4 linked regions of the Homo sapiens genome follow. The protein of the gene in region 3 purifies or fractionates together with the protein of the main gene of each other region. This does not show direct contact. Each region holds a gene or a part of one and is shown on either strand. Other genes may lie near its edges. The genes, in order: RFX3, ZBTB34, FOXN3 and RFX2.

What was found.
Region 1: the proteins of FOXN3 (region 3) and RFX3 purify together in Homo sapiens (affinity purification with mass spectrometry; 2 studies listed by BioGRID and IntAct, with this or other methods). This does not show direct contact.
Region 2: the proteins of FOXN3 (region 3) and ZBTB34 purify together in Homo sapiens (affinity purification with mass spectrometry; 2 studies listed by BioGRID and IntAct, with this or other methods). This does not show direct contact.
Region 4: the proteins of FOXN3 (region 3) and RFX2 purify together in Homo sapiens (affinity purification with mass spectrometry; 2 studies listed by BioGRID and IntAct, with this or other methods). This does not show direct contact.

Annotation. Positions count from the first base shown.
Region 1 is NC_000009.12:3,522,947-3,531,101, reverse strand, and holds the start of RFX3 (transcription factor RFX3), read left to right. Parts: upstream 1-5,100; 5' UTR 5,101-5,355; exon of another isoform or gene 5,356-6,600; coding exon of another isoform or gene 6,601-6,622; exon of another isoform or gene 6,623-7,472; intron 7,473-8,155. UniProt on the Homo sapiens protein: Transcription factor required for ciliogenesis and islet cell differentiation during endocrine pancreas development. Essential for the differentiation of nodal monocilia and left-right asymmetry specification during embryogenesis.
Region 2 is NC_000009.12:126,863,639-126,870,638, reverse strand, and holds part of ZBTB34 (zinc finger and BTB domain-containing protein 34), read right to left. Parts: exon of another isoform or gene 6,947-7,000; coding exon of another isoform or gene 6,927-6,946; intron 1-6,926. UniProt on the Homo sapiens protein: May be a transcriptional repressor.
Region 3 is NC_000014.9:89,344,187-89,351,344, forward strand, and holds part of FOXN3 (forkhead box protein N3), read right to left. Parts: intron 6,623-7,158; coding exon 6,486-6,622; intron 6,308-6,485; exon of another isoform or gene 6,101-6,307; intron 1-6,100.
Region 4 is NC_000019.10:6,037,442-6,044,599, forward strand, and holds part of RFX2 (DNA-binding protein RFX2), read right to left. Parts: intron 6,842-7,158; coding exon 6,752-6,841; intron 4,683-6,751; coding exon 4,603-4,682; intron 2,801-4,602; coding exon 2,539-2,800; intron 1-2,538. UniProt on the Homo sapiens protein: Transcription factor that acts as a key regulator of spermatogenesis. Acts by regulating expression of genes required for the haploid phase during spermiogenesis, such as genes required for cilium assembly and function.

The sequences.
Region 1 (8,155 bases), on a different chromosome or scaffold from region 3:
TTCCACTAAAATCCCAACCTACTGCCTCTGCCATAAGAAGATACTAAACACAGATTACTTTTTCCTGTTCTTAAATTTTATATAAATGGATTCATATGCTATGTACTCTGTGTCTGGCTTCTTTTGCCAAATGCAATGTTTTTGAGATTTGTCCGTGTTGTATCAGCAGTCCTTTCCTTTGACTTGCTCAATAATACTCCATCGTATGACTGTATCACAATTTGTTTTACTCTTTTACTTTTTAAAGACAAGGTCTTGCTCTCACCCAGGCTGAAGTACAGTGGTGTGATCACGGCTCACTGCAACCTTGAACTCCTGGATTCATGCAATTCTCTTGCCTCAGCCTCCCAAGTAGCTGGGACTCCAGGCATGTGCCAACATGCTCAGCTAAGTTTTAATTTTTTTTTGTAAAGACAGAGTCTCGCTATGTTGCTCAGGCTAGTCTCAAACTCCTGGCCTCCAGTGATCCTCATGGCTTGGCCTCCCAGAGTGTTGGGATTACAGGTGTTAAGTCATTGTGCTGGGCCCACAATTTGTCTTCCCATCCTCCTATTGATATACATTTGAATTGTTTCCAGACTATTTTTTTTTTTTTGAGACCGAGTTTTGCTCTTGTTGCCCAGGGTGGAGTGCAATGGTGCGATCTCGGCCCACCGCAACCTCTGCCTCCCAGGTTCAAGCGATTCTCCTGCCTCAGCTTCCCAAGTAGCTGGGATTACAGGTATGTGCCACCACACCCAGCTAATTTTGTATTTTTAGTAGAGATGGGGTAACTCCATGTTGGTCAGGCTGGTCTCGAACTCCCGATGTCAGGTGATCCACCCGCTCGGCCTCCCAAAGTGTTGAGATTAAAGGCGTGAGCCACCACGCCCGGCCCCAGACTTTTTTTTTTAAAGCTGCATGTGTACATCAAAAGGTAATTTGGTGTTAAGCAAAGGTAGTCAACTTATGATTCTATAATCATCTTTCTGTGCTGGAGTAAAAATGTAATTCCAAGACATACACATGCACACAAACGTGTGTACACATAGCCACACACACTCTTCAGAACTGCCGAGTAATCAGCTGGTTTGTATTACTTAAAGAAAACACAGAAAGACAAATCTACCAGAAAAAATTATTGCACTGTTTTCAAAACCAAATCATACTTTAGGTGGGGATAGGGAGGCTTGAGGGTGCTCCAGAGAATAGTGGCAAATTATGTTCAGTTTTGAATTACCTTGGCCCCTATCACTCTCTTATCATTTTTAAATAATTATCACATATCCACAGAATTTCAGATCTAGTAAAGGGAATTAGCAATCGAGTAATAAAATTATCCAGTATTCCACATAAGTGCTCAATAAATATTGGTACAAATGAAACCATTCATTTTATATAAGAGAACCCAAGACTCTACATCTCTCTCTCAATTGAAGAAAATAGGATATAATCAAATGAAAAAATTTAAAACAGGTGTGATTTCTCTCATAAAAAGATTCACCACAAATTCAACAATAAGGTGCCACAGCATACATTACTTTTCAAACTCTCATACTATTTTTCAGAAGCAAGCCTATCACATAGCACTATTTTATCTTTTCATATGCATCCTTTCTTTTTTAAAGTATAATAATGAAATAACTTATTAGTCCTTGAATATGGAGTAGATATGAATAGGCAAAAACACTCTAATAGATAATACAGAAATCTACCACTACGAATGTGTTAAAGTAACTTATGAAATACACAATCTATATATATCATCAGGGCTTCAGATTTTTCTTCAAGTAGTTCAGATACAAATGTGTTATTCCATGTCTCTTCCAATCATTCTGATCGGAGAGAAAAAAACAATCCAAGTTAAAACACAACATTCTAAATTAATAGATAATGTTGAACATTTTACATTCAGGAACTATGTCTGCCCAATTTTAGCTTGGTTATGTACCTTTTTTTATTGATCACACAGTGTGTTTTGCACTATAATAGGTGATAACTGTTAGAGTGGTCCAATACTGGGTCTTTTCTGTGACTTCTTAGCAAATAATTTATTTCTGAAACATACATGCAACATATGTGAAGATGCATCTATGCAGCTTTAAAAAATGGCTAAAAAAAATCCTACAAGCAATAACTATGGGTTAAAAGGTTTCTGGGTTCTTTTGTAACTAATTACAGTATTAAACAATACATGCATATAAAATCCGTATTTTCGATTCTATAGCTTGAACTGGTATCTTGGTCATCTGATTCAGTGTGGTGGTGTATTTGTACCTTTTCACACTGCTATAAAGAACTGCCGGAGACTGGGTAATTTATGAAGAAAAGAGGTTTAACTGACTCACAGTTCTGCAGGCTTAACAGGAAGCATGACTGGGAGGTCTCACGGAAACTTACCATTATGGCGGAAGGCGAAGGGTACAAGGACTTTCTTCACATTGTGGCAGGTGAGAGAGGGGTAGTGGTAAATATTTTTAAACAAGCAGATCTCGTGAGAAGTCACTCTTGAAACAGCACTAGTGGGATGGTGCTAAACCATCAGAAACTGCCCCCAGGATCCAATCATCTCCCACAGGGCCCCTCCTTCAACACTTTCGGATTACGATTTCACATGAGAGTTGGGTGGGGACACAAAGCCAAACCCTATCAGGCAGTAACACTAACATTTCAAATATTAACCTCAATATGGTTAGAATTGTATCATCATCAAGTATCCTAAAACATGGGAAAATATTCTAAATTCTAAATTTTCAAGAATTAACTTCAGGAAATTTATCTATTCCTAACTCTGGAAAAGACCAAATCTGTAAGGCAAAAAAAAAAAAAAAAAAAAAAAAAAAAAATTTAAGCAGCTTAAAACTGATTCTATAATGTCCTAGCACAAGGGTTGCACTTATTTTTTAATAGTCCCTCGAAGTACCTATTTATACTCTTGAGATACAGTTTTGCACAAGGTTCACTATGTGGTTTTCTTGCCTGCAGATTAAGAGCAATAAATTAAAAGGGCGGTAAGGATAATAGAACTATGTTCACTGACAAAAATAAAAAGCAACAGCTGACAATGAAAGACGGGACAGGCAAACTATAACAGACAATGGAATTTAAAAAAACAAAGCTATTCAGAGAGCCATGTAGTGTGAACATACAGCCCTACACACCATTATAGGAATGAGGACTTTATCAGTAAATATAATAAAGAGAATATTCATAACGACTACCAGTTTTCATAAAGCTGGAACGTATACCTCATTTCCCATCTGTATGTCAAATGGGACCCACACTGGTCACCACACAATCATTTGTCTGACTAGAAGCCCTTACTACCACAGTGGGTCAGGAAACCTTTTAGCTTTAGCACTAGGCTCACCACTGTTCACTACTGCAACACATTATTATTGTAAGAACATCTCTAACTCATGAGATTATCAAAGGCAACAATATTACTTTTAAAAACGTACCCAAAGTAGCTGGTTCCTAAAACAAGGTAACCTTGTATTCTATGGCACGCAGCCATAAACTAAAACCACCGACTTTTAGGACTCTCGGCCTGTTTTTCCTCAAATGCGAATATTACCTAACACTGGTGTTGTTGGGATTACATGAGATAATGTATGTAAAACACTTAGCACCAGTTCTGGGACACAGAATGAGCTCAGTATTATTTTAGCGCTGGTGAACGCATGCCGGCCCAAATCCCTTACTTGCAGGTGCAAAAATTAAGCCTCAAGAGGAGAACTGACTTCCTAAGGCTCTACTTCTACTATGTCATTGTCCTGGTTAAGCAGCTTAGCGGCAAATGTTGGGAGATTTTGGGTATTGGCAGGGCCTGGGGGCATGTGCCTGCTGGACTCGAGTCTGCAGAGAATTGGAGGAGTCTGTTTGAACCATGAGGCATTACAGGCTGTGCCTTATCAACGGGTGTTTGAGATGGCAGGTTGTGTTAACAACATTCAACACAGACGGAAGCCATTCGTCTATCTCAATACAGCCACAAACAGCAAGACCCTCAGCTACAGTAGGCTGAGTAACGGGGGATGAGAGCACGGCAGGTAACAGGATCCGGGCTTGAGCTCAACTCCCAGTTCGGTCTTTAAAGAGGGGTGAGCACTTAAGGGCTGAAACTAACAGAACTAGAAACTAACAGGATGGTATCGCAGGCAGGTGTAAGCTACCCCGCCCCTCTACGCCTTCCGTCGAGGGGAACCGCCAAATGCGCTTTCTCAGCCTCCGGGCAGGGCAATTTCTTGCTCTCTACAGGCACTTACTCCCATCCCTTGTAGATAGGGAGTGATGACCTCGCTTTTTCGTTATGGAGTGAGGGCCGGACACGCTTGGACCTCACCTCTCCGCGCCACGCTGCGGCGGCACCGCGGGAGGCCGACTCGCGCCCACGCACACCCCACGCTCGCCTTCTCTAAGATGGCGGCAGAGGCAGCTCGCTCACGCCCCGCCGCCCGCGCTCCTCCACAAGTCGTGCCCTCAGGAGGCGGGAGCGGGTGAGAGCGCGGAAAGCAGGAGGGCGAGAGTGACGCGGACCCTCCAGTCTAGCGCAGGCCGCGGAGCCCTGAAGCGTCCAGGAAAAGGAAAAGCCAGGAGGCTGACGCTACCAGGAACACCGCCGGCGCCTCAGAAACTAAAAAGCGGCGGCACATCCGGGCCCCTCTGCCCGCCCCGCCCCGGAAGTAACGTATCGGGCAGGGCGGGGGCCGCTCTTCAAAGTGGATTCTTCCCTCGCCATAGCTCGTTTCTTCACAAAGTGCCTGGAATCACCCTCGCCACCCCCTCCCCCGGGTTAGCCGTTACTCTCTCGTGGCTCCGGGACGTCTCTGTACAAAGCTGGCTGCTGGGACAGGCAGCCCTCGTTTCACAGATAGTACCCCTCGCACCACGACTCCTGGGCCTCGCCAGCGCGTGTAGTAACGTCCCTCCGAGAGGACTCTTGGTGACCTCAGCCCCAGCCAAGCATAGGCGCACCTCTTCGGAGTCCTGCGGTGGAATCCCGGCCTCGTGCCCCGTCACCCCGCCGCCCCGCCACCCCACCCGGGTTTGGGGGCCGTCAGTCACAGCGCTGCGCCCTCCCCTTCCGGCGGCTTGGCCGGGCCCGCCTCCTCCCCTCTTCCCTCCCCCACCCCTCCCCGTGCGAGTGTCTCCCTCTCCCTCTCGCTCTCTCTCTCTCTCCCTCTCTCTCTCTCTTTTGTGAGTTATAGCAACCGTTGCCTTGTGAATCAAGCGCCATAGTCACCGTAGTCCTGGCGACTGTTACCCATCAACAACAACTACTCCTCTCCTCCTCCTCCTCCTCTTCCTCCTCCTCCTCCCCACCACCACCATCTCCATCACCCACCAACAACACCACAATAATCCACAGCCAAGGTGAATATTCTTCGGTCTCTACATGTGTGTGGGAGCGTGTGGCTGCGTGTGAACGCGTGTGTCCGTGCGTGTGTGTGTTCGTGTGTGCGAGCCGAGTGTGGCTGTGCTGGGGTCTCACTCCTGACACGGGGGCTGCCGCTGCGGCGCCGCCGCCGAGGGGCTCTGTTCCCCGGGCTTGTTTACAATGGACCCTGCGCGCCGCGGCTGGGTCGGGGGTGTGGGCGCCGCGCCGCCCGCCGGCCCCGGCCCTGCGCCGGCCGCACTTCAGGGATGGAGCGGGAGCTTGGGGGGCTGCGAGCCGAGCGGGAGAGGGAGCCACAGTTTTCCGATGCGGATGCTGGATCTTTCCCTTAGGTCTGGTCTGAGGAGGAGGGTCAGGTGAAGAGATAAGAATTTGTTCTTTCTTTAATTTTCTTCTTTTCCAACGCTGCTGTTTCCTGCTTCTTTCAAAGCCGAAATAGACAACAGTGTGCAAGGGGGGGACCCAAGAGGTGGTGTTTTGTTGTTGTTGTTGTTCACTTGTGGGGCCTTGTTATGGGTTTTGTTATTTTTAATCCTCATACGTTGGTGAACTTTTCCCACCGCCCATTCCCTTCATTTTTGCCCCTCTTTGCCTGGTGCTGAATGGGCTGCTCTTCTTTCACCATCATCAGCTTCATGGTTTTCTTTTTTCTTTTTAAAACTGTATTTTCTTTGTGCGGCAAACAGTCTTAACATCCATTCAGCACTCTTCCCTCCCCCTCTTTCTCCCCCCCCCCACACACCCCTTGCACACATATTGAAACCTGGGGCCTGTTCGTTGGGCCCTCTTTGCTGTACTGGGAAAGATGTTTTTCTTTTTTAAAGTCTGTCTCCTCTCTCTTCTTTGGTGTGTGTGTGTGTGTGTGTGTGTGTGTGTGTGTGTGTGTGTGTGTGTGTGCTTGTGATTTAAACCGGATGCAGGGCATCTGTGATACTTGGGTTAGTAGTTATTGACAGTGCTTTATCCTTCATGTGGAGGTGGGAGGGGGAGTAGTGAGGTTCCGTTTCACTTTGATGATCCTCCTTCCCCGCAGTAGAGTGTTAACAATTTTCATTGTGATTATGAGACTTTGTGATGAACAGGGAAGGGACACAAGGAAGCTTTGTGAGAACTCAGTTCACAGTGTTATTTGTGACAGTTATGGTACTTTAAGAGTTTTTTTTTTTTTAATCTCCTCATTTTCCTTTGAGAGTTGAAATTCAAGTCAAGTTCATAAAGAATGTATGAAGGTTCTCAACTTGAAACGTGTGTATATTTCACTTTCTTTCTGGTTAAGATCTAGGCATGTGTGTACTTAACATATTCTTTTTATTTACTTTTTGATTTTCTTTGGACAGTGACTTGAACCTGCTCAGGAGAGAGAACTTTTTCCTTTTTAAGTATTTCTTTTAAAAATTATTTTTCTCTGTAGATTTGAATACTTATTAGTCCTTATATAGTAGGTTCTTGGTTAACGTTAACCCAGTTTTACAGATCCCCTAAATTTGTTCATTTTTTTCAGCTTAACTTTTAGTTAATAGATTTATCAGTAGAGTTTTGATAATGAATGTGTGCTAAAACAAATATAATGTACTATTGTAGTTGCACATATTGAAGTTTTAAATTTACAGTTTTAAAATGCTTATTCAAATAGTCTTCTTTCTAACAGCAAACATATATTGATTTAACTGACACAGCAGCTTGTGAATAATGTGACAGTACTAATTATTCTTGAGATTGTCAACGAGCAGGGTGGGTAATTATAATGCTATTAAGGCTAATATTTTGTAAAATAAGAGTTGGGATTTTAAAAAAACTTTTTCAATTCATTTCCTTGTGATTGCTATTTTAAATGAAGACGATATTTTGTTCTGAAAGAAGTCTTTCTCAGAGCACTCAGATTTGTTTATAATTATTCCTCCTCTCCCCAAACTGGGTTCCATGCAAATCTCTAATACTAACTTGTATTTTTTTTTCTGTTCAGATGAGTGTCAAATGCCTGAACACTTTTGGATGGTGAAGCTCCTGGGTCCTATAAACTCTCTCTGAAGTTAATAGGAGTTTTGCTGTCTTGGGACAGTTTCAGACCTTATGCCATTTACATAATAGGTTTTCAGTTAAGTAAATTATATACTATAATGTTATGGTTTAATATTTTATTTACAGTGTCTGAGAACTTTTTTTGAGGCATTTCACTCATGTATAGCTCAGGTTTTCTGTGATTTAGATTTTCATTCACAAGTTGATTTGAGAGCAGAACTTAAATTGAATTTCATTACTTTTCCATTTTTTGAAGCATATATGTGGGATAAAATTGCTATTAGAGCTGCTGTGGAATTGATTAAATAATCAGAAACACTGAGAAATGGTAAATTTAAAAATTAAACACAAGGATAGATACTTAGCATTTACTTTATTCTTTCTTAATATTTTTCCTAGAAGGGACTATGTTATGTATTGATACTCTCTTGTGTTTTCAGTTTTTATACTAATAGAAATTTGTAAAAGTGATCATGCTTTGAAACTAAAACTATTAAATAGAAGTCACTTGTAACTTGTTTTGAATAGTCAAATGTCTGTGATTCAATGTATGTCATAATGCCTAACTCAGTCGTTTTGGTGTGTTTTGCCTATGAATTGTATTAAATGGTGTAGGCATCATACATATACACATATATGGCAAACTAATGAATTTCTAGAAGTTTTGCATCGTTTCACAATGTTTTCATTAAAGGTTGTAGTGATGGTTAGTTTTTTTTGTATTATTCCTCCAGTACTCAAATAGTCTTGTACTCTGCT
Region 2 (7,000 bases), on a different chromosome or scaffold from region 3:
GTTTAATTATAAATGAGGTTGATATCTTTTCTCATGTTTAATGGCAATTTGTCTAAGTTTGTCTTTGAACTGCCTACTCATATCCTTTGCCCTTATTTGCCTTTTTTATTGATTTGTCAGAGCTCTTCGCAAATTAAGGAAATTAGCCTTTTGTCATGCGCTGCAAGTATTAGATTTAATTGCAATCACTAAATGGCACACTGACTGGGAATTTAAATTATTTTTCCTACATTTATAGGAAATATTCACTCAATATCAATCTCTTACATACAGAAAACCAAAGGGAATTCAAAGATGAATACAAGTCCCAGTCTTGCAGTTTGATAGAGGCTTAATGCAGATTCCTCCCCACTCAGAGAGAGATGGGAATGGAATTCATTTTTGATAATGCAGAGTAGTGATTTATATTAGTTTTTCATTTAGATTAAGTTTGCAGCTGCCTCAGAAAACAAAAATGAATTTGATTATTCCACTCACTAAAACCATCAGAACCAGAACTCTTTAATTCAGGAGATTAATCATAGGTGTTTCTGTCACATTATTCTAGGCAAAAAAACCACACCCAAATTAGACATTTACACTGCTATTATTTTAATTTAAAAAACAAGCACATACAAGCTGGATTTATTTTCAGTATCGATACGTATTTTAACAAAAATTCTGTTTTTGTTTATAAAAACTATACTCTGGAAAAAGAATGTGAGATACTTCTTTTAAAAAATACACATGGATAGAACTTTGTTGAAATGGTTTTTTGGTAAGTTCAAAATTGTCACCTCCTCAACTTCTTCACAGGTCTCTTCTGTTCACTCAATCAATGGAAAGACAATCTTTCTGCTCTTTCAATTTCTTTAATTTCTTACTTCCAAAATCTTACTTTCTTACAAAGAAAGAGAATAATTTCACACCTGTGGAATAGCTTTCACCTCACACACAGCCTCTGCCGTGACCACACAAGGCCACCACTGGTCTCCCAGGTAGCTTCTGGGAAGGACCACCTCTGATGTGGGCAGGACCGACATTCTCCTACTTCCAGGCACCCAGCCGCCCCCACACCAGCCTGGGCTGCTGTGAAAGGGGATGACTGCCCCTGCTGCCACACCCCTCAGCCTCCCCCTCTACTTGGCAGAGTCACTCCACCACCGTCATCATCCGTGACCAGCTTTTATTGAATGTGTAATACATGCCAGGCATGTCGTAAGTAAGGCTTAGGACGCAGTATGTCTCTGAATCCTCCCAACCTGCCCCTTAAGGCAGGTACAATGACTCCCATTTTAAAGATGAGGAAACCAAGGATCCAAGCAGCTGACTTTCCCAGGACCCTTCTGAAGTGTGCGTATCTAGGTCCCTATACAACAACCCCTTATCCCTAGCGAGCTGGACCTGTGTTACATTCCTGCCCTAGGACAGTGTCAAGGAAAGGGATGGAGATGGGGTGGGGGGTGGGGGTGGGCAAACATCCTCCCTATTGCTGCCCAGAATAGAGAAGGGCAAATGAGGGCATTTTAGTAATATCCATCAAGATTACATCTGCATATTCGCTGTGACCAAGCAATTTCAGCTGTAGGAGTTTAGTGAAGCACCCTCTTTGTAGAGCAAAATCTCCCTCTTTTCTAGACCAGAATCACTAGCAGAAGGGTTATGAGGAGAAGAATGTTCCAGGTGGGCCCCGCGGCCACCGTGTATCATGCCCTCCATATTCACAGCTTTGATCCCCCTTTCCTCCTCAGAGCCCCGGACCCTGGCTCACTCTACTTGCTTTAAATAAAAAGCTATCTTTACATGCGAAAGCCTCAATTAATTAGAAACCACAGATCTAGGGCTCAAGTAAACCGGTCCTTTTGGTGTTTGAAGGTGAAAGTCACAGAGAGCAGATGCTGCCAAGAAGACACAGGGTTCAGCCCAAGTTCAACAGAATTCAAAGCAGCATTGAGACCGGCGCCCTGAAAGCAACAGCAAACTGTGAGGGGCCCTCCAGGACTGACCAAGCAGTGACGAAGCCAAGTCTGAAAGCACCAGAGGACGGCAGACATGGAAGCCACACTGCAAAGGTGAGCACAGCTGAAGGCGAGCAGCTTTGGGAGAAATGAACACACGCTGTGGAGTGATGGCCGGCTGGGCAACCAGAGCAGGAGGACACTCACACAGTGAGGCACTGTGGGTACAAGCCACAGGGAGAGCGGCACTGCCTGGAAATGACCGCACGAGCCATCCTGGGACACTCCTCCCACAGACCTGAAGTCCAAAGCCAAAGCGGGGGCTCTGGAAATAAGCAGGCATGGATGCGCTGAAAAGAAAATTAAGGTCTGATGCGAGACCATATGACGACAGGCTTGGTAAGTAATGCTGCTTGACATCTTCGCAAGATCCCACTCAAAAAAGCTACAGAATCCATCACTGCGCCCATGCATCAGGACAGCAAGAGGCTGCTCTGCAACAACACACAAGGGAGAGACACCCCCCAATCCAGGTTAACGCATTTTACCCAAAGGGGCTTAAGAACAAAAAGCCACTCGACAAAAACAGGAAGAGCAAGCGACCATCATGTCACATTCACGGCTGAGGCTGAGAAGGGTGAACAGAAACCAGTAACTCAAGCCCCTGCTCTTCCATTCAGCTCCCCACCCTCACTGAGTTAGTAAAAGAGGCAAAAAGGCAATAACTGCCCTTATATGTAACATTAGAGGGTCACATAAAATACCGTGGCCCACCAATGGCAAACACAGCTCCTTTGAATTTTCAAAGGTGTCACATGTCAACCAATTTCTTATAAAGCACCAAGGAATGTATGGAGGATCTTATTACTTTCCATTTAATGCCACTCTATTCCTATGCCAGTATTTTAAAAAGACTTATCACCAAAAAAAAAAAAACAAAAAAATGAAAGACAACATGGGTGAATTTATTTATAACACTGACACAAAGGCCTTTCCAAGCATGACATAAATCTCAGACGCCACAAAGGCAAAGACAAATACATTCGACAACGTAAAAGTACATGACAAAAAAAATACCCCTTTTCGCCAAAAGCCAAAAGATAAATGATATATTGAGGAAAAATATATGCATATTTGACAAAGAACTACTTTCCAAATTCCTTAATTTACAAATCAAATTAGGTGACATACACAAAAAAAACCCCTATGGGAGAATGGGCAAAGGATACAAACAGCTCAAAAAAAAAAAAAAAAGAAAAATGACAAAAAAAGAAGCAAAGATGCTAAAATTTACTTCTGATTAAAGACGTTTGAAATACAAAAAGAAAAAATAATGAGATACCATTTTTAACCCATCAGCCTTGCACACAGTTTAAAAGAGCTGGCAAGTGTAGTCCTCAGGAATGAATAATTTGGTAATATCTATCAAAATGTAAAAGGCATTTACCTTTTGGTCCACAAGTAACGGGGAGGAATTAAGCCTACTAATATATAGGACCTACAAAAGTGTAAGAGAGACATATGAGAACAACCACTAAGAATTTTTCTTTGCTATAGCAAAAAAAAAAAAAAAAAGGAACCCCCAAAGGAAACTGGTTTCAAAAAATATAATCAACAATGAAATACTACGCAGCTATTAAGAAGAGTGGGTAGATCTGTATGCTTTGATATGGAAGGAGTGCTAAGATTTAGCCAAAAACAGCAAGATGTAGACTAATATGTATGCATATATGTCATTCCCTTCATGTACGTTTTGTAAAGGAATTATATTACGTTGCTTGCTGTATCCATTTTGGAAGGAACCACGTGGTACTATTAATGGTGGTCACTGTGGGGAAGGACTAAGGAGAGGGAAGGGAAACAGACTTTATTTTATACCTTTGCATTTAAAAAATCACATAACTATTATTCTCACTAAAATTTTTTTTTAAGCCATGTAGGTTAGTACCTACAAATATATAATTTTTTAAACCAAGGAATCTAGAGTAGAAAGATGGGCTGCAAATGGATAATTATTACATCAAGCAGACAGTTATAAAGGCAGAAACGAAGAACTACAAGGAACAATACAAGGCTGATTACTTTTGACCAAAAAGATTTTTAAAAAATCAAAATAGAACAAAAGAAAACTTCATGGAGGAAGATATTTTTGAACAAGGCCTTGCATTTCAAAGGGAAAAAAAAGAACACTCCAGACAGAAGGAAAAGCAGGAACAGGGCACAGGGGAATGCAAACAGCGTCTGGGGTAGAGCAGGCAGCATGCAGTGGCCCCAGCTCAGGGACAAGGAAGGCCATGGAAGGAGAAGGCCACAGTCAGAAGGTGGAGGGCCTTGAATACTCAGAGAACTCAAACAGAATTCTGGCGGCAGCACCTGGAGACTGAGGCATGGTGTCTACTCGGAGGCCACGTAGCTCAGCCAGGACAAGCTGGGCTCAGGTTTTTCACGGGGTCGTGGGAAATATGGGGCTGGAGCTAGAGAGAAATATTAGACCCGAAGATACTGATTTGGGAGTGACTGTGTACTGACTGAGGATCGTTTTGGTAAAATGAGGTTACTCGGGGAGGGAAAAAAAAAAGAGAGAAGGCTGAGAATAGAAAGGGTGTTTGCTCCTAGAAAAGAGGAATGGAAACACAGCACCTGATGAAGGGGGTAACATCCTCACCTAGCCCTCTCCTCAAGCCTTTCCACTGACTAGTTTTGTTTTTGTTTTGTTTTGAGACAGAGTCTTGCTCTGTGCCCAGGCTGGAGTGCAGTGGTGCAATCTCGGCTCACTGTAACCTCCGCCACCCAGGTTCAAGTGATTCTCATGCCTCAGCCTCCTGAGTAGCTGGGATTACAGGCATGTGCCACCACATTCAGCTAATTTTTGTGTTTTTAGTAGAGACAGGGTTTTACCATGTTGACCAGTCTGGTCTCGAACTCCTGGCCTCAAGGGATCCGCCTGCCTCAGCCTCCCAAAGTGCTGGGATTACAGGAATGAGCTACTGCGCCCGGCCCCATTGGCTAGTATCTTTAAGTAAAATTCTGCACCACGTATTCTGTTAAGCTGTGAGGAAATGCAACAATGGAAAACTAATGACATCCTCTCACACTGCTGACCCATTCTGCAGAGAACCTAAAAATAAGAAGGGACTCTCAGATGCCATCTGGGCAAAACACCCACCTGGGCCTTAAAATCTCCTCTACAACTTTCTTGGATAAAGCCTTGGAACTGTCTCCACATATCAACAACCAGAACAAAAGTAAAAATGTAAAAGCTGAACAATTAGAAATGTGCTGATTCTGTGAGACTCCTCACTGCTGAGCTTCCACTCCTGGCGGTGAGCTCTCTGAGGGCAGGGACTGCGTGCCCAGAGCCCAGCAGTGTGTCTGGGGCAGAGAGGCTCTCAGTACATGTCAACTAAAACAAGCTGGTGGCTCAAGATCCATGGACTGCCACTACAGCCGCACCCTCAGCTCTGAACTTTTCCTTCTGGAGACCCCAGAGATGCGGGATCGTCTCTGCCCACAGCAAAATCTAGCACGGTGGCTTATTCCAACCTAACCCATAAACAGTCTAATTTGCTCCACAAGATGCTACACTTTGTTTAAAAATATCCAGTTACACTTCCAAGAAAAGAAAGGAAAGTTACAAATTTGGAAGTTGTTTAAGGCACCAGGAGGTACCCATTATTCTCAATCAAGATGCTCATGATTCCAAACCCAGATTTGCACCTGCTGGCTTCAGTCATTTGCTGATACCTGAGACACAGCTCAAACGAGGCTTTCTCTGGCAGGCACTGGAAACCTGAAGATCCCTAATTTTCATTTTCATACAAAGTCATTAAAAAGACCACAGACTGAAGCACCGCAGACAAAAGGCATGGTAACAGAAGTAACAATTATATAAAAATAACTTTTCTAGGTATTTCTGCCTGGGTCTAGATTAAAACCAAAATTGAGCTGTCATGAGCTACAATCTAATCTTTTAGAAAGCAGCAGTCAAATAACACCAGGGCTGTGTGAAACATTCTGGTGCTACTGAAACCCAATGCAAGAAAAAAAAAATAAATAAAATGGCATTCTGTGATGGATATTCATGAAGCACTCATCCTAATTTAAAAGAAAACAAGTTTAGAGTTCTTACTGCATTAATTCATGTGAGCCTGAAAGAACATTTTTATCCAAACTGTTACATTTCCTACCAAGGCGTTAACATTCTCCAGGTCTGCTCAGATACACTAATTCCAAGAGGGTGCGATTTGTCTTTTAGTCAATGCAAAACATCATCAGAAGCTTCTTCTGAGCTTTCCAAGCAGGAGAGGAATGGCCTCTTTAATTTTACTAGCAATGACAAGGACTAACGGTCAGTAGGCTCCTACTGTGTACAGTATGGTAAGTAAGCTCTTAGACGACACTAAGAGGCTGCAGTTATCCCCATTCTACAGACGAGGAAGCAAACCCAGAGAGGCTGAGAAACTTACCCAAGGTCACTCAGCTAATGACTGGCTGAGCCAGGATTTGGACCTAGATTTGTCAGTCTCAGACTCAGAACTCTTATCTCTTATAAGAGTAAGATTTTAATCCAGGCATACTGGTGAGATGCAGGATTTTTATTGGTGCTGGATTCTTACTGATCAACTCCGAGTAGAAAGAGAATTCTCATTTAAGGATGTTCCACCACACAGACAAAGTCAGGCTGGGTCTGACACTGTGATGATTAAGGGGTCACAATATGTTGTACTTCAAGTGGTTTGCAGTCATTTCTTTGCAAAATGTCCCTTATTTTTACTTCTGTCAGTGAAGTAGGAAAAAAGATGTTTCATATTTTAATCATTAATTGAGAGGATTTGTTTCAGATAAAATAAGCTTTCTTAAGGCAAATAACTAAAAAATAGTAAGGCACAGCATCTTATCTGCTTACTGCTGGCTAGCATTTCAGGGGCACTGGCCCTGGAAAATACATTAAGTCCTGCCTCTTATGACAAAAGGATTAGAAAAGCTCACCTTGACTTGCATTCTTCCATGAGGTTTTCCTTGCCATCAACATCAACCAGAAAATAACCATTAGAAATTTAACT
Region 3 (7,158 bases):
ACTTTACATGAAATATAGACTATGATGTCATTATTTTTACATTGAAAATTTTAAAGCAAAAAAAGGGAAAGCTCATTAAAGAAAAAAAAAAAAAAACCATCTCACTCAGTTTCTGACCATCTAACACCCAATCATGGTCAATCCATCATGGAGGCCAAAGGTACGTAGGATGCTGGGATTTCTTTGGAATTACCAAGGAAACACAAAACAACGCTGGCTCTGAAAACCAATCATCCAGGAAACTCTCCATAAACCATACTGTTTGATTAAATGCAAAACCTGTTCTCCAACCATGGTGAGAGAGGATTAAAATGTTTTTCTGGAAACTGACTTTGGATTGGTGCCTATAGCAGAGAAGGTATTACATAAGACCCATATATATGTCACTCTCTAAAAACAATCTGTTGTCATAAACATTATTATGGGGAGAGCTGCTGTTTATAGGGTGTTAATGTAGTGTTACGAAGTTTAAATACCCCCACTATAAGTACCAAAATCACAAAGTCAAGGTCACCCATTGAGGAACTGTCTTTTCATTTAACTGTCAGACATTGAGAAAGGTTAGAAAAATAGAAATTTCCTAAAAAGTTGGTGGGAATGTGGACTAGAACCGAGTGTAAAATCAGAAGGCAATTTGGCAATGTCTACTGGAAACATTAAAATACGCATATTCTTTAATGAGAAATGACGTATCTAGGAAGGAGGGGCACAGGCAACATAAAGATTAGAACAGCTCAGTGGACTTTTCCGAAGAGGTACGGGCAAGCAACCCAAACACACCACCCCTCCTTCCACTTTCCAGATCTAGATTCCGAAGGCCCCACGCCAGAGTCTCCTTGGCAAAGGTGTAGATTCCCCAAGCAAGCTGGCGTGGCTCGGTGTGCATGAGTAGCCCGAGCTCAGCCACGGGTACTCTACAAAGCACAGTGGAGTGCCATTTCACAAAACTAACGTTCCAAGAACTGTAGTATCCAAACTACAAAGAGACCCCTCGTGTGGCTCAGCAGATCTTCCAGAGAATGAGGCAAAAGCAAGAGCCCTTCACAATCAGCTCTTCACTAAAGTAGGTCAGGCAACTCTCAGTGCTGCAGTGATTTTACTTTTCATTCTACCAAAAACAATCGGGATATCTAAAATTGATCAATGAGTCTGCATTTTGGAGACTGCTTTAAAAAAAAAAAAAAGGAAAGAGAAGTTACAAAGATAGCACAGAAAGCTCCTGCATACCCCTCACTTAGTTTTCCCTGATGTTAACACCATATATTACTAATAAGGCACTTGTCACAACACTGGTATACTACTATTTTTTTATTTCAATAGTTTTTGGGGTACAGATGGTTTTGGGTTACATGGATAAATTCTTTAGTGGTGATTTCGGAGATTTTAGTGCACTTGTCACCCCATAGATAGTCTTTTATCCTTAATCCCCCTCCCAACCTTCCCCCTACTCCCCTCCGAGTCCCCAAAGTCCATTATATCATTCTCATGCCTTTCCTTCCTCACAGTTTAGCACCCACTTATAAGTGAGAACATACGTTTTCCATTGGTTTTCCATTCCTGAGTTACTTCACTTAGAATAACGGCCTCCAGGCCGGGCACAGTGGCTCACGCCTGTAATCCCACTTAGGGAGACCGAGGTGGTGGATCACAAGGTCAGGAGTTCAAGACCAGCCTGGCCAAGATGGTGAAACCCCGTCTCTACTAAAAACCACAAAAATTAGCAGGGCTTCATGGTAGGTGCCTGTAATCCCAGCTACTCGGGAGGCTGAAGCAGGAGAATCACTTGAACCTGAGCGGCAGAGATCGCAGTGAGCCGAGATCGCGGCACTGCACTCCAGCCTGGCGACAGAGTGAGACCCTGTCTCAAAAAATAAAAGAAAAGAATAATGGCCTCCAGCTGCATTTAAATTGCTGCAAAAGACATTATTTTGTTCCTTTTTATGGCTGAGTAGTATTCCATGGTGTATATATACCACATTTTCCTTATCTACTCATAGGTTGATGGGCATTTAGGTTGGTTCCATATCTTTGCAGCAGCAAATTGTGCTGCTATAAACATGCAGCATACTACTATTACTATTAACTAAACTGCACAGTTAATTCATATTTTGCACATTTTCCCCTAATGTCCTTTTTCTGTTCCAGGATCCCATCCAGGACATCATAGGACACATTTGCTCATCATGTCTTCTTAGTCTCCTCTGGTCTGTAATAGATTCTAAGACTTTCCCTGTTTCTGATGACCTTGGGGCTTTGAGGAGTGAGGATCAAGTTATTTTTGTAGAATGTCCCTGCTGAAGGACAAAATCATTGTTTGATGTTTTTCCCATGACTAGACAGGGGTTATGAGTTTGGGGAGAAAGACCACAAAGCTGAAGTGCCAAATTTATGATGTCCTACGAGAGGTACCCGGTATCAACATCACATCACTGAGGATGGTACTTTCATCACCTGTGGCATACTGTTCACCAGGTTTGTCCACTCCAAACTCCCTTTTCCAACCTTTTCCATGCTCTCATCTTTAGAAGTAGGTCATTAAGTGCAGCCATTCCAGGAGTGGAGAGTTCCGTCCCACCTCTTTCAGTGGAGAAAGAGCTACATCAAGCATTTGGAACCCTCTGAATGGGAATTGTGTCTCTTCTCTCATTTATTTGTTTGTTTATTTATTCAATCATTTATTTCTATCAGTCTGGACTCATAGGTATTTATTTTATATTTCCAGTTATAATCCAACACTATGTTATTTATTTTGCTGCTCATCACCGTCCCAGCTTTGGCTACTAGGAGCAACTTCAGGCGAATCCCTTTGACACCCCTGCCCCCCACCCCACCATTTTGTTCTTTAAATATTTCCTTACTTTCTGCTTCTCCATATATTCATCAGCAAAATGTCTCCCTTAAGAAAAGGGTTGCTATGGGGTGATTTATGCCTCCCCAAAATTCCTACATTGAAGATCTAGCCCCCAGTACATCTGAACATGACCTTATTTGGGAACAGGGCCATTGAAAATGTAATTAGTTAAATAGGATGAATTATTACGGGAGAAAGATGGGCCTCTAAGCCAATACGACCAGTGTGTCCTTACAAGAAGGGAAAATTTGGACATAGACACCACATGGAGAAAACGAATGCCAAGTGAAGGTGAAGGCAGAAATCAGAGTGATGTTTCGACAGGCCAAGGAAGGCCAAAAGCATTCCAGCAAAATGCCAGTAAACCACCAGAAGCTAGGAGAGAGGGGTGGAACAGACCCTCCCTCACAGCCCACAGAAGGAACCAACCCTGCCGACACATTGGTCTCGGACTTCCAGCCTCCAGAACCTTGAGACAGTAAGTTTCTGTTGTTTAAGTCACTTGGTTTGAAGTACTCCACGCTGAGCTCTGCACTTCGATTAAAAACAATTCACAAATTTGGTATCAACAAAGCAGGTGTGGAAGAACATCCTAACATACATTCAAAAGGGCACTTTAGAAAACAGAGGCATGGGCCGGGCGCGGTGGCTCACGCCTGTAATCCCAGCACTTTGGGAGGCCGAGGCGGGCGGATCATGAGTTCAAGAGATTGAGACCAGCCTGGCCAACAAGGTAAAACCCCATCTCTACGAAAAATACAAAAATTAGCTGGGTGTGGTGGCGCCTGCCTGTAGTCCCAGCTACTCTCAGGCGGCTGAGGCAGAAGAATCCCTTGAACCCAGGAGGCGGAGGTTGCAGTGAGCCAAGATTGCACCGCTGCACTCCAGCCTGGAGAGAGAGCAAGACTCCGTCTCAAAAAAAAGCAAAAAAGGAAAACAGAGGCACGGGTCTACACATCTCAATATTTAGCATGGTATTTGGATGTGAGCAAGGTCTGGGCAGTGCTCTCAAATGTCTCGCTTTTCCCGCAGCATTTCCAGCCACCTGCAGCTCAGTTCAGAGTGACATTTGCCAAGCACACCTGCAAGTCCTAGCAATAACCGCCCATCTAGTATAATCACCATCTTCTTCAGGATGCTAAGTACCAGCCCCATGAAAGCCAAGCACTTCCCAGGTACCCCTCACAGCGATCCAGCAAGGGGCTGACGGGTGATTCCCCGCATCACAGTGGACCCAGCCAGATCACGTCAATTCGGCATTTTGGGGTCCCTGTTTAATGACTCGGTGTTTCACTTCCATCTTCTCTAGGTCATGTCAACAAGTGGCCTGATGGCTTAGAATTGAACCAAATGCCACATCACTGTTAAGACACAGAAATATTGTACAATTACCCAGTGTTCAGTGGCTTCAGTGCAATTTCACACACTAGAGGATCCTGAAGCAAACTCTCAGCTTTCAGATGAAGGGATGACAGTCCCCAGGAAAGAGAAAGTGACTTGTTCTCATGGACTTAAGGCATGGAAGAGGCAGACTAGAATCTCATCTGTCATCTCCCTCCACCGCCAGTGACCTCTGTGGAGGTGAAATCTAAGCACCGCATGGGCAGAAGCAGAAACTGGTTTTTTTTCCCCCCTCAGTCAACTGGGGATAAAGGCTGGAGGTGACGGAGTGGGGTCTGAAATATTCCTTCGGAAATGATTTTCATTACAAAAGCTCTGGTTCATCTGCATTTTTATGTCTATATTAAAAATCAAATGAAGTCATTAAGCTAAGGCCAGCTCAGAATGCCTCTCGCCTGAATATGCATTCCTGTTCCAACCCCCAGAGCTCCTCTATAATCCTTCGAATTATTAAATAATTACTGTGTTTCCCTCGGGGTCACATTTGGCAACAAAATACTGGTCTAAAGGAACCAATGACATGACCCAGTGAGTAACACTCATGTTCTTAACTTCCTAGAAGCAAAGGGAGATGAAATACTTCTGAGGTGCAGAGTGGAAAACCCAGAGAAGGGTATTCCATGCAGCTTGGAGAGTCGGGGGGTGGGGGTAGAATGACAAAGAAACATGAGAATCTGGGAAATATTTCAATAATTAGTGTCACGTCCTCCTTCACCAACCTTGTACATCGGCAATTCTCCACTCCAATCCTGGTTCTCTTCCATTTGGGGAGTGGCTATGGCCACAAGGAGAAAACCAAGCATATGGCTCTGTCCTTCTGGACATGTCTACTATGTTGGCTGGGCTGCTTTGGAAAATCCCACTTTCTCTCCTACAGCTATATGACCTCAAGTTGTCATTTCGAATAAAGTATGCTTCCACTGATTTTTATGAACACAGACAAAAGCTGCTACAACCTTCCCCCCCACACACCAAACCTTTCAAATCAACTGTAGTTGCTATGTAAGGTTATTTGTTTCTAAGGCAACAGTGTATATCTAAGTACTAATGGCCTGTCCTTTTGCCAGGCAACAAACAGCCTTGTGATGCAACTGCACCTGTCTCGGCTACGCGTTACTATGGAGACGCTCCAGTTGCTATGGGTACCATCACGCTAATCGCCTAGCAAAGGCAGACATACAGCAGTCTTCTCAGAGAGCCCAGCTGTTCCTCCCTGTCTCTTGCTGAAGACTGATTGTCTAGGGCCTGTGATGGAATGCTTCTCAACTGAGATGCAGAAGAACTTCATTAATGCTATTTCAGAAGATCACTTTGTGCTCCCTCCTGCAGAACAAACAGCAGACTAGGAAAAGAATCTGCAAAGAAGTGGACTGTAAAATTCCTGAAGTCTATGACATCATGCCATCCCTAATTAACCTCAACTTGCAGTCCAAGGATAATTCCTCTTAACTAGGTGGTTACGATAGAAACATTTCTATACATTTTTAAATATTTTTTTGTAGAACTGAGGAATGCACTTCAAATTCAAGTACTATGTATTCATAAAAATTGATCTTAAAAATTTGGTTCTGATTATTTGGCTCTCTTTTGGAATCTAACATTAAGACACTTTTTAAAAAAGTGACAGGCTACTTACCCTCCCTTCCAATGATATATTTGTAAAAATGGTACCCATGACCTTACTGTCTCAAACAAATGGGCATGTGAGGAGGATAAAATGTCTCTATTGTTTCTACTGTTCTCCTTGAAGAAGCAAAGACCAAGTAACCACAACAAAATGGTCACCTGGGAGCACCGTCTACATGGAGACTGCGAAAGACAACAGTGGGGACAACTGAGTGAGCCTCCACTGAATGTCTGCAGAGACCGGCCAGATGAGGGGATGATGGAGTTGCCTGCTTGACTCGTTCCTGTACTTTTATCCCAACAAAACATGACACACACCGAGATGTGAAAGCTGTCGACTTTTCTTTGTAAATGTTTCTACCCAGGAAGACATGATTTCACCCACCATGAAGCCTTCTGGAAGCACATTCCTCTGACGCTGCAGCAGCGGTAAGGTTTGTAGGAAATACAACAGTGGATATGCCTCCTAATAATACTTAATTTCTTTCTCATTTACCTGCAGTTATTTTTAAAATCTCGTACGGCCTATTAAATTAATTTCCGCGCAGGTCTCTGCCAAAATAATGCCATTTCAGTAGACCAAAAAAAAGAAGTCTGAATTGCTTACCTTTGATATGCCTGAGGACAGGTGGGAGGTGTATTGAACACGTGTGGGTGTGGGTGATAAGGTGTCTTTTTCAAAGCCTGAATTAGATTTTGTCTATACTCTGGGTCTATGCACCACAACGACCCTTTCCCAATACTCTGCAAAGAAAATTAAAATACAAAGGCATTAATAGAGAATTATTAAGTACTTTGCAATAAGTAGATGTATAGCTATTATCACTTCTTTATTTTTAAAAGCTTCTCATTTGTTGACTGTTTGCCAGCCTTAAATATTATACTGACAGTAGAACTCCATAAAATGCACTTCAATCTTACTTGTATTATGTTTGATAGGCAAAATGAACATATTATTACCAGGTTATGGTGATACAACAATATTACAATTTTCATACCCAAACTACCAATAAAATGAGAATCTCATTGTTTTTCAGCGTCAACATTGAAGAACACGTGCATTCTCTTCTAAAAATGAATTTAACTGTGTCAGATTTCTAAAGTTTGGGGAAAAAAAAAAGAGGGCCGAGACACCCCCAAAAGTCCATCTCTGCTCCAGAAATTTAGTTATGTTTTAAAACCATATGACATCGGGATCATTTTATAAAAACAGAAAAGTAATCCCCTTGTTTCTTTCCAGCTTACTCACAAAAGAATGACATTTACTCTTGGAATAGAAT
Region 4 (7,158 bases), on a different chromosome or scaffold from region 3:
CTCCAAACATGAAATACTTTGATATAAATCTAACAAAACATGTACAGAATTTTGTATAAGTTACAAAATGCTGATGAAAGAAGATCTAAACAAATGGAGAAAACGTACCATGTTCATGGATTGGAAGCCTTAACATAGTAAAGATGGGAATTCTCCCCAAGTTGGTTCAGTGCAAATTAGTCAAAATCTCAGTAGCATTTCTTTGTAGATATAGATAAATTGATCTAAACTTATACAGAAACTTTGAGTTTATATAAATAGTCAACGCAATACTGAAGAATAAAGTGGGAGGAACCATCCTCTTCAATTTTAGACTTACTATAAAGCTATAGTAATTAAGACTATGCTACTTGTAAAGGGATAGGCAGACAGACCAATGGGATGGAATAGGACACTCTGAAATAAACCCACACACATATGGCCAACTGATTTTTGACAAAGGTGTTAAAGCAATCCAATGGAGAAAGGGTAGTCTTTTTAACAAATGAGGCTAGAACAACACATTGTTTCATAAGCAAAAAAAAATGAACCTCAACTTAAACCTTACATTATACAAATGTTAACTTGATAGGAAGCAGATCTAAATGTAAAATGTAAAACTATGGTCAGGCGCGGTGGCTCACGCCTGTAATCCCAGCACTTTGGGAGGCCGAGGTGAGCAGATCACTTGAGGTCAGGCATTCGAGACCAGCCTGGCCAACATGGTAAAACCCTGTCTGTACTGAAAACACAAAAACTAGCCGGGTGTGGTGGTACACACCTGTAATTCCAGCTACTCGGGAGGCTGAGGCAGGAGAATCGCTTGAACCCGGGAGGTGGAGGTTGCAGTGAGCCAAGATGGTGCCACTGCACTCCAGCCTGAGTCACAGAGCAAGACTCCGTCTCAGAAAAAAAAAAAAAAAAAAAAAAAACCCAAAACAAAAGTAAAACTATAAAACTTTTCAAAGAAAACAGGAGAAAATCTTCATAATGTGCAAATAGGCAAAGAGTTCTTAGACATGACATTGAAAGCATGAGCCACAGAAGAAAAATTGATAAGTTGGATTTCATCAAAATTAAAATTTTTTTTTTCTCTGCAAAGGACACTTTTTAGAGAATGAAAAGACACACTAAAGACTGGGGAAAATATTTGCAAGTCACATATCTGACAGGAGACTTGTATCCAGAATACATAAAGAATTCTCAAAACTCAACCATAAGAAAACAACCAACCTAGTTAAAAAAGAAGCAAATGACTTGAAGTGACACCTGACCAGAGCATCTACACTCACATGAAAAGCTGCTACCATCATTAGCTATAAAGAAAATGCAAGTTGCAACCACAATGAGGTACCACCACACATCTATTAGAATGGCCAAAACCAAGAGCACCAGCAGCATCAAATGCTGCTGACGGAGAGGAGCAAGAGGAACTCTTGTATGTTGCTGGTGGGAATGCAAAATGGTGCAACCACTTGGGAAACTGGTGGTTTCTGATAAAGTTAAACATACACTTTCTGTATGAGCCAGCAGCAATTCCACTTGTAGGTATATATCCAAAAGAAAGAAAACATATGTCCTTACAAAAGCCTGCATGTGAAACTTAGAGCTTCTTTATTCATAATCACCCCAAACTGGAAACCATCCAAATGGCCCTCAACTAGTGAATGAATAAACAAACTGTAGTGTAATAGAATATTACTCAGTAACAAAAAAAAGCAACTCGGATTCATGCAGCAACTTGACTGAATCTCAAAGGCACCAGAATGAGTAAAAGAAGCCTGTCTGAAAAGGTCACAATCTGTACGATTCCATTTATACACCACGCTAGTAAAGATGAAACTACAGCAATAGGGAACAGATCAGCAGTTGCCAAGGGCTGGGGATGGGGGAGGTTGTGACTGCCAAGAAATACCACGAGGGGGTTTTCAGGGCAATGCACTGTTCTGTGACCTGATTATACACAAATCTACCCATGTCAAAACTCACAAGGCTGTACACCAAAAAGTTGATTTTACTTTGTGTTAATTTAAGAAGGAAAATAAATGAAAAGTAAACACGGGTAATCGAGTTTTAAATGTAGAGACTCTGGAAAAGCAGATAAGTCGTTATTTTGCATCGGGGCATGGCAGCGAGAACTCGGCAGAGGCTGCAGGGAAACTTCCCCTGCTTGATTCAGTCCAGGTGTCTCATGGATGGATTGATCCACGCCTCTAAAAGCTTGATAGTAACAACGATAACAATAATAAGAGCAAAGGAGGCTGCAGCATCCACCAGTGGAGAGATGCTTGACTCATTCCCTTTTCACAACAGCCCATGACGCATGGCTTGTCCTCCTCTTTATACCAATGGCCAACTGAAGTTCAAAGAACTCTGCAGGCCTGCCTATGGTTGCGTGGCCCGTCTGAGGCTGGCCCGACTCCATCGTGGGGCCGCCTGGGCCCAGAGCAGACGACAGCCCCTCCGGGCCTCCGGCTGCCTCTTACTCACCATCCCTGCTGCCGCTGCTTCGAGAATACTCATGGCCTACCCTGCTGGTCCCAAGAGCCTCCTACATACCGTGGCGGGCGATGAGCGGGAGGTGTGGGCCAGGGAGTGTCTGGTGCTGTCCATCCCCCCGTGGATGAGATAGGCTCCCGCGCTGGAGACGATGGGGCTCCCCCCGACATCCATGGTGATGCCCACCATGCTGTGGGAGGGGACCGCTGGCGGGGACGAGGCTGCCACGGTCACCTGGGCACCGCCTGGGGCCTCGAAGTAAGAAGCCGTGCTGCTGGGGGCGTACATCTGAGGCTCGGGGTTGTAGGTGTAGGCTGTTCGTCTGTTAGAAAGAGAGAAGTCACGCATGGGACGCTGTCCCATTTAAATGCCTTGTCTGAGTTCACAGATATCCAGCCAAACATCACGTAAAAGCTGCAACCCAGAGAGGCCAGACATATGGAGCAATTCGGACGTGGCATATGACACTCAAATGCAGCGCAAGTTCACAGCCACCATGTTGCAAAATCTTTAGGACCACAGGCTGACTTATCAAAAAGTGACCACTTAAAAATTCTAGGCCAGGCGTGGTGGCTCACGCCTGTAATCCCAGCACTTTGGGAGGCTAAGGTGGGAAAATTGCTTGAGGTCAGAAGTTTGAGACCAGCCTGGGCAACATAGAGAGAACCATCTCTACAAAAAATAAAAGATTTAGCCAGGTGTGGTGGTGCGTGCCGGTAGTCCCAGCTACTCAGGAGGCTGAGGTGGGAGGACTGCTTGAGCCCAGGACTTTGAGGTTACAGTGAGCTGTGACTGCACCATTGCACTTTAGCCTGGGCAACAGAGCAAGACCCTATCTCTTAAAAAAAATAAATACAAATAAAACTTAAAATTGTAAGTGGATAAATGGGTCACATGAGGGAGCTCCTGTGTGGAGATGGAGCAGTTCTGTATCTTGATGGTGGTATTGTTACACAAATCTACACATGGGCTAAAAATGCAAAGAAATAGACACGCACGCACATGCAAGGGTACACACATGAACATGCAAAGCCACATGTACTCCACATGCAAGCACACACGCAAAAGCACGTGCATACAGACTGGTAGAACTGAATAAGGCCTGTGGGCTAGTTAACAGTTTTACCCCAATGTCAATTTCCAGGGGTTTTTTTGTTTTGTTTTTTTGAGACAGGGTCTCCTTCTGTAGCCCAGACTTGAGTGCAGTGGCAAAATCATAGCTCACTGCAGCCTCAGCCTCCTGAGCTCAAGTGATCCTCCTGCTTCAGCCTCTGAATATGGGTGTGCACCGCCACAGTAGCTGGGGTGATGGGTGTGCACCGCCACAGTGGCTGGGGTTAGAATCATACAACTCCACCAATCACAACCCTGAAGTCACAGCCAGGTTCTCATGTACAGCCCCTGCACTTGTGAGGGGAGCCATCCAGGCCAAATGGAAACAGACAAGCAGGCGAAAGGACTCACGTCTAAAGTAAAGTGAGCTGCACGGGAGATGCATACTTTCCTACCCCAAGCATCACACAGTTACAGAGCAGAAAACTCTAGACATCCTTGCAACATGGAAAATCAAGTTCTATCAACATTATACAAAGCTGGAGTTTAACAGAGGCGAGGGGAAAACACACAGGGGTGGATGGTTTCTGGATCTCAAAGACTGAGACTTCAGAATGAAGAGTTAGGATTAGCCTTTTTTTTTTTTTTTCCAAGACTATCTTTTCTAAAAGTAAAAAGTACAAAAGTCTGTGATTTCTGAAATCTCCACAGGGTTATGATGTCCTAATCCCTCAGCTCCCACCCCGCTCCTTTTTTTTTTGGACAGGGTGTTGCTCCATCAGTCAGGCGTGATCATAGCTCACTGCAGCCTCCAACTCCTGGGCTCATGCGATCCTCCCACCTTGGCCTCCTGATTACCTGGGAGGGACTCTAGGCACTTGTCACCATGTCTGGCTAATTTTAAAATTTTTTGTAGAGATATTGCCCAGTTTCCTAATAGCATTTTAACAGTATTTAGTGAACACATCGCCAAAAGCATAAGGGAGAGGAATTTGCTTGATGCCTCCCCAGGTGGCAAAGGCTGGAGTCAGGGAGAGGGTTCCGGGTGTGGCCCGCGGGAGAAGCACGCACATGGCTCCATTGGTGTAGACGGCGTCTCCCCCTTCCACGTACTGCACCTGGGCAGGATACACGTGCTGCACCGGCTGCACCTGAAACATCGGATACGCTGCGTTACCGCCAGTCACGCCCTCGTGAGTTGCCTGCAGATTATTCAAGCTAGACGTGTCTTCTATTGCCTTTATGAACATTTAGTACCAAATGACAATGTTCCCGCCCACAGTCGGCACGCCTAGAAAGACACTGAGGAGACAGTAATGTACAGACGACATATTCCAAACGGGCCCACACAGTTCAGGGAGCTGCGACTGATCCCCAGAGCTCTGCTAGCGTGTCTGTGCGCCCTGGCTCCTCTGTATACGTGGGGGCGGGACCAGGAGAATGACAACGCTCCTCCAGTGCAGTGGAAACTAGAGTTGTGGACAGAGGCCCAGCCTTGGCTCACAGGACTGTCCCTGGTTTCTGTTTTTTTTTTTTGTTTGTTTGTTTGTTTTTTTGCGACAGGGTCTCCCTCTGTAGCTCAAGCTGGCGTGCAGGCTGCAGTGCACAGGGGGCTGAGCAGATTAGACTCTACATGGCCCCAACACCCCCCGTGGGTGGCCCTGGTGCCCCTTCCCTGGCAGAGAGGAGGGGAGAGAATGTGATGGTCTGAACAGAGTGGGAAGGAGCGGCATGCCTGGAGAGATGGGGCAATGGGGGGACCCCAGCACACCCCCGCTGCCCTGCCCTCCCCTCTCTGAAACATCAGTTCAGAGCCTCGGCTGACAGGCCCCGAGGGACTCTAGTCCGAGCAGTGGAAGCCAAACGCTTTGCACATGGGACTTCAAACTCTCACCCCAGAGGGCATCTTAGTGGCTGTCTACATCCACTGAATTTTGGGGTGAGAAGATGGAGGGCCACAGAAGTGGGCTTGTTCGGGTGTCATGGTGTCATGGTGACCTTCCTCTTGTGCTTGAAGCTGCAGGATGGGGCTGACCTGCCCCTCCTTGGACCACTGAGCATGGTATGCACTTGTCCAACGCACCACCCCCAGAATCACAAGTTCCAGGGGTTAACATCTGTTGGGTGATGCCCCAGGGGTGGAAGTCAAATGTCGAATTCTGGGGTCCAAGTGAAATGCAGAAGTTACAGAAAGAGCTGGGGCAGGCCCAGCACCAGAAAAGTGGTGGAAGCTTCTGGAATCTCCTCTCCTTGGTGTCTCTGGGGAGTGCCTTGACAGACAGCAGCTAAGACAGAGCCACTGGCCTGAGGCCCTGCGTCCCCGCTGGGCCTGTCTGGAGCCTTTTCCTTCCTGTGATCCTGCAAACCTTCCTAGTTCTCATGGACACAGTCACCTGACAAATGCCTGTGAACAGACTGCCAATCTAGGCAGGACCCTCCTGAAGAGCGGTGCATTCTCTAGGGCCTCAGGGCTCCTTTTAGGGAGGAGCCTGAGTTAACTTTAATTCAGGATTCTGCAGGGCACAGTTGGCAAACTCCGGCCCTGAGGGCCAAATCTGGCCCACTGCCTGTTTTTGTAAATAAAGTTTTATTGGCACACAGCCACACCCATTTGGTTGCATATCATTTATGGCTGCTTTTGCGATACAATGGCAGAATTGAGTGGTTGTTCCAGAGACTGCCTGGACCACAAACCCCCAAAAATGTATAATTTGGCCTTTTCTGGAAACAGTTTGCTAACCATGCTTCTAGAGTGTCCCCAAGCTGATGATCTGTGTTGCTACTTGGCTGGTCAGCCGTGCTTTCAAACTTTGTTCTTAGATAATTGAAATCATAAGAAGCATTTCCTCTGTTGTGCCCGCATCTGAGGGTATGGCACTCACTAGCAGATGGTTCCTCCAGTCCAGAGCCCTTTGTTTCTGTCTGCATTTCTACCTGAGCTCCACCCAGCAGGTGCGGGGTGCTCACTGGTTCCCCAAATGCTTGCTGAATTTCTGAATGAACGAAAGATCACCAGCTTTCTTGGCTTTCTGCAAAACTATCTGCAGTAAATGATTTTTTTAAAATTGCACAGCTTCTGGAAAAGTCTTTTGGCTAAGAAACTGAAGCTTACAACAAGGAACAGCAGCCACAGAAAAGGATGCATCCTTCAGAGATTGTTCTGGATTGCTGAGTGCTAACTGCGCCCCGGTTTGCACGGTGCTGCGGTGCTTGTCATTACCTGCTGGGGTACCTGCTGAACTCTGGGGAGGGAGATCGGCTGCATCTGGGCCCCTTTGGGATTGGAGCTGGCTGCCTGGACCAACACCCTCTAAAAGGGAAGGGAGAGAAGGCCAGTTAGACTTGTCAGAGGTCAGTGCTGAGGATACACACAGAATGTAAGATGCTGTTTGTCTGTTCATGTGCTTTTTATTAAAACATAGGCAGGACTGATCAGAGGCGACGGCGGGGTGATGGTCAGACTTGCACACTCACACCGACCTGGGCAGACACACGGCAGGTACGTGCAGGCACACAAACAATGCACATACATACACAAGTGTGCACATACACTCAGCCCATGCACCACACATATGCACGAATTGTGGGCACACACACACGTATGCACACACACATACACGGAAGCAC